Linked DNA regions of Homo sapiens. The protein of the gene in region 1 interacts with the protein of each later gene in a biochemical or structural test. Each region holds a gene or a part of one and is shown in the gene's direction. Other genes may lie near its edges. The genes, in order: POLD2 and POLH.

What was found.
Region 2: the proteins of POLD2 (region 1) and POLH form a complex in vitro, tested with the Homo sapiens proteins (one study listed by BioGRID).

The regions. Positions count from the first base shown.
Region 1 is NC_000007.14:44,113,954-44,117,450, reverse strand, and holds the end of POLD2 (DNA polymerase delta subunit 2), read left to right. Parts: intron 1-203; coding exon 204-318; intron 319-435; coding exon 436-634; intron 635-940; coding exon 941-1,021; intron 1,022-1,178; coding exon 1,179-1,336; intron 1,337-1,557; coding exon 1,558-1,685; intron 1,686-2,054; coding exon 2,055-2,156; intron 2,157-2,505; coding exon 2,506-2,666; 3' UTR 2,667-2,771; downstream 2,772-3,497. Other genes in the region: AEBP1 (adipocyte enhancer-binding protein 1 precursor), read right to left, coding at 3,190-3,497. UniProt on the Homo sapiens protein: Accessory component of both the DNA polymerase delta complex and the DNA polymerase zeta complex.
Region 2 is NC_000006.12:43,613,951-43,617,681, forward strand, and holds part of POLH (DNA polymerase eta), read left to right. Parts: coding exon 1-607; 3' UTR 608-3,731. UniProt on the Homo sapiens protein: DNA polymerase specifically involved in the DNA repair by translesion synthesis (TLS). Due to low processivity on both damaged and normal DNA, cooperates with the heterotetrameric (REV3L, REV7, POLD2 and POLD3) POLZ complex for complete bypass of DNA lesions.

The DNA.
Region 1 (3,497 bases):
TGGGTGAGACCTGGCTGGGAGATGGGTCTCCCCACCTCCATCCAAGGGCAGTGACTCCAGGAAGCAGGCATGCATCCTGGAGTCCTAGGTGAGAATTCACCAATGTGGTTGTGGAGAACTGGCTTGTTTTGCCCGTTGGGGTGACTGGAAGGAGTGGTAGCACCTGGGGCTCCCTGCTCAGGCCTGATGCCACTGCTCCCCAGGGACTGTCCTGGCTGTGTTTGGCTCCGTGAGAGACGACGGGAAGTTTCTGGTGGAGGACTATTGCTTTGCTGACCTTGCTCCCCAGAAGCCCGCACCCCCACTTGACACAGATAGGTGAGCAGCAGTTCTCGGGAGCTGGAACCAGCTCATGGTCAGTGGAATCTTTGAGTTGCACCTAGGAGGGGCTGCCTCCCTTCTCGGCACCCTGGAGGACCCCACCTTCTCCCGCAGGTTTGTGCTACTGGTGTCCGGCCTGGGCCTGGGTGGCGGTGGAGGCGAGAGCCTGCTGGGCACCCAGCTGCTGGTGGATGTGGTGACGGGGCAGCTTGGGGACGAAGGGGAGCAGTGCAGCGCCGCCCACGTCTCCCGGGTTATCCTCGCTGGCAACCTCCTCAGCCACAGCACCCAGAGCAGGGATTCTATCAATAAGGTATGGAGCCCACCTGGCTGCATTCAGCCCCAGCCCAGGAGCCTGCAAGCCTGTAAGACCCTCCTTCCCCAGGGCGAGTAGGGTACCCTGTGAGGTCTCGCAGGTCGGTGGGAAGCGCCCTGCAGTGACTCTGGGGCCTCCTGCAATGGGGCTCCTCATGCCCAGGCCCTCGCTGAGGATGGTGGGAGGCTTGAAGGGAGTGAGGGTCTATGGGACAACAACTGCATCTTCCAGCTGGTGGGGCTCTACTCTCCTCTGAGCCTGGGACTCGCCTGGGCCTGATGGCCTTCTGGGCTTCTATTCCAGGCCAAATACCTCACCAAGAAAACCCAGGCAGCCAGCGTGGAGGCTGTTAAGATGCTGGATGAGATCCTCCTGCAGCTGAGCGTGAGCGAGCTGGGGGCTGGAGGGGTGATGGGGATTGCAGTCTTCAAAGCTGCCACTGGGCAACAGAAGGCAGGCAGGAGGGCAGGGGGAGTGGCCGGAGTTGGTGTAGGGGGCTCCTTCGGGGCCCTGTGAGCTCTCCCTGCCCTGTGCCTTCCAGGCCTCAGTGCCCGTGGACGTGATGCCAGGCGAGTTTGATCCCACCAATTACACGCTCCCCCAGCAGCCCCTCCACCCCTGCATGTTCCCGCTGGCCACTGCCTACTCCACGCTCCAGCTGGTCACCAACCCCTACCAGGCCACCATTGATGGAGTCAGGTAGCTGGCACAGCCACACTTCAGTCTGACCCAGCCTTTTGCCTCAGGAGGCACAAAGAAGGGAGGGGAGGGAGGGCCCAGGAAGGTGGCAGGGCTGCAGAGGCCCACCTAGCATCTGTTCCTTCTCTCTGGGGCATCCCCACAAGAGCGCCAGATGAGCTCTGGGCTGACCACTATGGGTGGCACCCAAAGCCAAGAGTCAGCTGAGCTTTGCCTTGCAGATTTTTGGGGACATCAGGACAGAACGTGAGTGACATTTTCCGATACAGCAGCATGGAGGATCACTTGGAGATCCTGGAGTGGACCCTGCGGGTCCGTCACATCAGCCCCACAGCCCCTGACACTCTAGGTAACAGGCTCAGCCATACAGGGTGGGAGCAGAGGGCCAGGAGGCCTGGCAGGACCCTGAAGTGCACAGGGTCCCCCTGTGGGTTTGCACTTGCCAGCATTGCTGAGAACTGTCTGAGGAGAAGTTCAGAGGCTTGGCACCTGCTCTGGAAGCTACTCTGGAATCTTAATTCTAAGGCCAATGGCTGCCCACCCCAACGGGCAGCAACAGCAGGGCCAAGGTCTTGTGACAATGTCTGGAGGTGCCCCTATTGTCACACTGGGGGTCTCCTACTGGCCTGCAATGGGAGGAGGGGCTGCAGCCCCACATCCTGTGCAGAGTGCTAGTGCTGAGGCGGAACCCTCCTCAGAGCTGCCCCTTCTCCTCCAGGTTGTTACCCCTTCTACAAAACTGACCCGTTCATCTTCCCAGAGTGCCCGCATGTCTACTTTTGTGGCAACACCCCCAGCTTTGGCTCCAAAATCATCCGAGGTAATTTTTGTCTTCTGGGGGCCCAGGCTGATTTGCTGATTTGCTCTCACCTGGGGACAAGGTTCACAGAGAAGAAAACCTGCATTGTGGAGTCCCCCTGGCCCTTGTGGGATGGACAGCTGAGGTCTTCTGCACAGCTGCCATTTCACTGTGGGAGCCAAGCTGCCTCGCCAGCTGGGCAGGGACTGGAACGGCTCCCAGCCTGTGTGCCTCTCAAGGCTAATCTCTGGTCTCCTATTGTCACTGCCCCACTGTGTGCCAATGGGGACTCCTGTTTATTTCTGGCAGCTTCTCTTTGAGGCAGGACTTACTTGGAACCTACAGTGGGTCCTATGTGACTTCTTTGCAGGTCCTGAGGACCAGACAGTGCTGTTGGTGACTGTCCCTGACTTCAGTGCCACGCAGACCGCCTGCCTTGTGAACCTGCGCAGCCTGGCCTGCCAGCCCATCAGCTTCTCGGGCTTCGGGGCAGAGGACGATGACCTGGGAGGCCTGGGGCTGGGCCCCTGACTCAAAAAAGTGGTTTTGACCAGAGAGGCCCAGATGGAGGCTGTTCATTCCCTGCAGTGTCGGCATTGTAAATAAAGCCTGAGCACTTGCTGATGCGAGCCTTGAGCCCTGGGCACTCTGGCTATGGGACTCCTGCAGGGGTGCCCACAGTGACCATAGCCCATGCACCCACCAGCCGGTCTCCCTCCTCCCCATCCCTGACACCTCAGAATGTGAGCAGTCCGTGCCATGAGCTTGTTTTATTGGAGTGACCTTGGCTCCCTCCCTCTGCCCCTACTCCAACACTGCAGCAACCCCATCTCTTACGAGACTGGCAGGTGGAGCAGGAGCCTCTACACAGCCTCTGGCTCTTAGGTCCCAGTCATGTTTGCACCCCCTCAAAGGGGCAGGACCAGCCCTTCCTTTCAGTGTCCATACCAGGGGCCTTCCATGTGCTGATGGGTGATGTGACTGTGGTCAGCAGGCTTGGGAAGTGCTGCTGCTGTAGCTTGAGTTGGGCTGGGGTCTTGGTAGGACGCTGATCTCAGAAGTCCCCAAAGTTCACTGTGTAGGTCTCTACTGTTGTGAAGGGGAATGCCTGGCCAGTGGCTATCTCCTCCTCTTTCTCCTCCTCCTCCTCTTCCTCAAACTCGGGTTCCAGCTGGGTCTCAAACTCAGGCTCCAACTGGGTCTCAAACTCGGGCTCCACCTTGGTCCCAAACTCGGGCTCCACCTCGGTCCCAAACTCTGTCACCACCTCTGTGTAGGTCTCAGTCTCCGACTCCTCCCAGCCAGCGGTGGTTGGCGGTATGAGGCCCCAGGGCTCTATGGTAGTGCTCAGGGTGGTGGCAG
Region 2 (3,731 bases), on another chromosome or scaffold:
ACCATCCAAGCCCTCATTACCTTTTCAAACCAGTCAAAGTACAGGAACTGAGCCCTTCTTTAAGCAGAAAAGTCTGCTTCTAAAGCAGAAACAGCTTAATAATTCTTCAGTTTCTTCCCCCCAACAAAACCCATGGTCCAACTGTAAAGCATTACCAAACTCTTTACCAACAGAGTATCCAGGGTGTGTCCCTGTTTGTGAAGGGGTGTCGAAGCTAGAAGAATCCTCTAAAGCAACTCCTGCAGAGATGGATTTGGCCCACAACAGCCAAAGCATGCACGCCTCTTCAGCTTCCAAATCTGTGCTGGAGGTGACTCAGAAAGCAACCCCAAATCCAAGTCTTCTAGCTGCTGAGGACCAAGTGCCCTGTGAGAAGTGTGGCTCCCTGGTACCGGTATGGGATATGCCAGAACACATGGACTATCATTTTGCATTGGAGTTGCAGAAATCCTTTTTGCAGCCCCACTCTTCAAACCCCCAGGTTGTTTCTGCCGTATCTCATCAAGGCAAAAGAAATCCCAAGAGCCCTTTGGCCTGCACTAATAAACGCCCCAGGCCTGAGGGCATGCAAACATTGGAATCATTTTTTAAGCCATTAACACATTAGTGCTGCCCTCAGGCTTGCCTGTAGGATTTAATATTTTTTATCTTTACAGATCTTTATCTTTAATATTTTATCTTTACAGATTTCCCTGAGAAAGGGAATTATGAAATTTTTAATACAAAAAATAATCCATTTAGGTGCTGAGTTACGGTCCCATCTCTTCACAGGCATGGATTCTAATCCCACTGCTGACAGAGATGTAAAAATTCATCCTACCAGAGTTTTTAATCTTTAGCATTTAGGGAGGCAGTGTCATAAAGTAAAAAGTGTGTGGGCCTTGGAGTCTAAGAGACGTGGTTGCAAACTTAGCTCTGGTTATTGCAATGAGGGCCTTGAACAAGTCATTTTCTTCACATTCTCATCTGTAAAATGGAGATAATACCTTACAGATTATTGCAGATTAATAACAATGTATTCAAATTATGTAACTCGGCCGGGTACAATGGCTCACGCCTGTAATCCTAACACTTTGGGAGGCCGAGGCAGACAGATCACCTGAGGTCAGGAGTTTGAGACCAGCCTGGCCAACATGGCAAAACCATCTCTACTAAAAATAGAAAAATTAGCCAGGCACGTTCCAGGCACCTGTGATCCCAGCTACTTAGAGGCTGAGGCAGAAGAATTGCTTTAACCTTGGAGGCGGAGGTTGCATTGAGCTGAGATCATGCTAGTGCGCTCCAGCCTGGGCAACAGAGCGAGACTTCATCTCAGAAAATAAAAAATAGGGGCCAGGCACAGTGGCTCATACCTGTAATGCCAGCACTTTGGGAGGCCAAGGCGGGCAGATCACGAGGTCAGGAGTTTCAGACCAATATGGTGAAACCCCATCTCTACTAAAATTACAAAAAAAATTATCCAGGCGTGGTGGTGCACGCCTGTAATCCCAGCTACTCAGGAGGCTAAGGCAGGAGAATCACTTGAACCCAGGAGGCAGAGGTTGGAGTGAGCTGAGATCGCGCCACCGCACTCCAGCCTGGGCAACAGAGCGAGACTCCATCTCAAACAAAAACAAGAACAAAAACAAACATAAAGTTGGCACAGAAAAGGGACCAAGTTTAAAAAAGGGTTTTAAATGTAATGAGACTTGCATAGTTAAAAAAAAAAAAGGGATTATTTTTATTTTTATTTTTTATTTTTGAGACGGAGTCTCCCTCTGTCGTCAGGCTAGAATGCAGTGGTGCGTTCTCAGCTCACCGCAACCTCCGTCTCCTGGGTTCAAGCAATTCTCCTGCCTCAGCCTCCCAAGTAGCTGGGACTACAGGCACGTGCTACCACACTCAGCTAATTTTTGTATTTTTAATAGAGATGAGGTTTCACCATGTTGGCCAGGATGGTCTCGATTGCTTGACCTCATGATCCGCCTGCCTCGACCTCCCAAAGTTGCTGGGATTACAGATGTTAGCCACCGATCCTGGCCCCCCCAAAAAAAGGATTTTAAGAAAAACTTCTCTTGGCCGGGCGCAGTGGCTCACGCCTGCAATCCCAGCACTTTGGGAGGCCGAGGCGGGCGGATCACAAGGTCAGGAGATCGAGACCACGGTGAAACCCCGTCTCTACTAAAAAATACAAAAAAAAATTAGCCGGGTGCGGTGGCAGGCGCCTGTAGTCCCAGCTACTCGGGAGGCTGAGGCAGGAGAATGGTGTGAACCCGGGAGGCGGAGCTTGCAGTGAGCCGAGAGCGCGCCACTGCACTCCAGCCTGGGTGACAGAGCGAGACTCCGTCTCAAAAAAAAAAAAAAAAGAAAAACTTCTCTTTAGGCTGGGTGCGGTTCCTCATGCCTATAATCCCAGCATTTAGGGAGGCTGAGGTGAGTGGATTGCAGGAGCTCAGGAGTTCGAGACCAGCCTGGGCAAGGTGGCAAAACCCCGTCTCTACTAAAAAAAATTAGCTGGGCTTGGTGGCAGGCGCCTGTAATCCCAGGTACTCGGGAGACTGAGGCAGGAGAATTGCTTGAACCTGGAAGGTGGAGGTTGCAGTGAGTTGAGATCACACCAATGCACTCCAGCCAGGGTGAGAGTGAGAGACTGTCTCAAAAAAAAAAAAAACAAAAGAAAAACTTCTCTCTAGCTCTGTGACGGGCAGTTCAGATAATACCTTCACCAGATTTACCTGTTTTCAGCTGAAGAATGTGAGATGAAGCCTTGAAACCCTAAAAGTGATATGGTAACTAGGGCAGGTCTTTCTGTACATAAAAGTGACTTAATAAACAGTGAATTTCATACAGGTAAACCCTATTATACCCTCAGTTCTAACCATTGGCCTATCTCTTGCGTTTTGTTCTAATGTAGAATTAGATTGCTACTTGACTAGTTCAGGAACTCTGTTTAGATCTGATAAGTCATAATCAAATCTTGCCAGGCGTGGTGGTTTATGCCTGTTATCCCAGCACTTTGGGAGGCCAAGGCAGGTGGACCACGTGAAGTCAGGAGTTCAAGACAAGCATGGCCAACATGGCGAAACCCTGTATCTACTAAAAATACAAAAATTAGCCGGGCATGGTGGTGGGTGCGTGTAATCCCAGCTAGTTGGGAGGCTGAGGCAGGAGAATCACTTGAACCTGGGAGGCAGAGGTTGCAGTGAGCCGAGATTTCCACTGCATTCCAGCCTGGGCGATAGAGTAACTCTGTCTCAAAAAAACCCACTAGATCATCTCTAGAACATTGCTACTCCCAAGTATGATTTGAGGAACAGCAGCCTCAGTATCACCAGGGAACTTATTAGAAATAGTCTCAGCCTCACCACTATTCCCACTTAATTGTAATCTGATATTAACAAGATTTCCCAATGTGGGTCAGGTGTGGTGGCTCATGCCTGTAATCCCACACTTTGGGAGGCCAAGGTGGGCGGATCACTTGAGGCTGGGAGTTTGAGACCAGGCTGGCCAACATGGGGAAAACCCATCTCTACAAAAAATAACAAAAATTAGGTGTGTGTGGTGACGCATGCGTGTAATCCCAGCTACTTAGGAGGCTGAGGCAGGAGAATCACTTGAATCTGGGAGGCAGAGGTTGTAGTGAGCTGAGATTGTGCCACTGCACTCCAGTCTGGGCAACAGAGTGACACTGTTTAAAAAAAAAAAAATTCCCAATGTGGGCCGGGTGCAGTGGCTCATGCCTGTAATCCCAG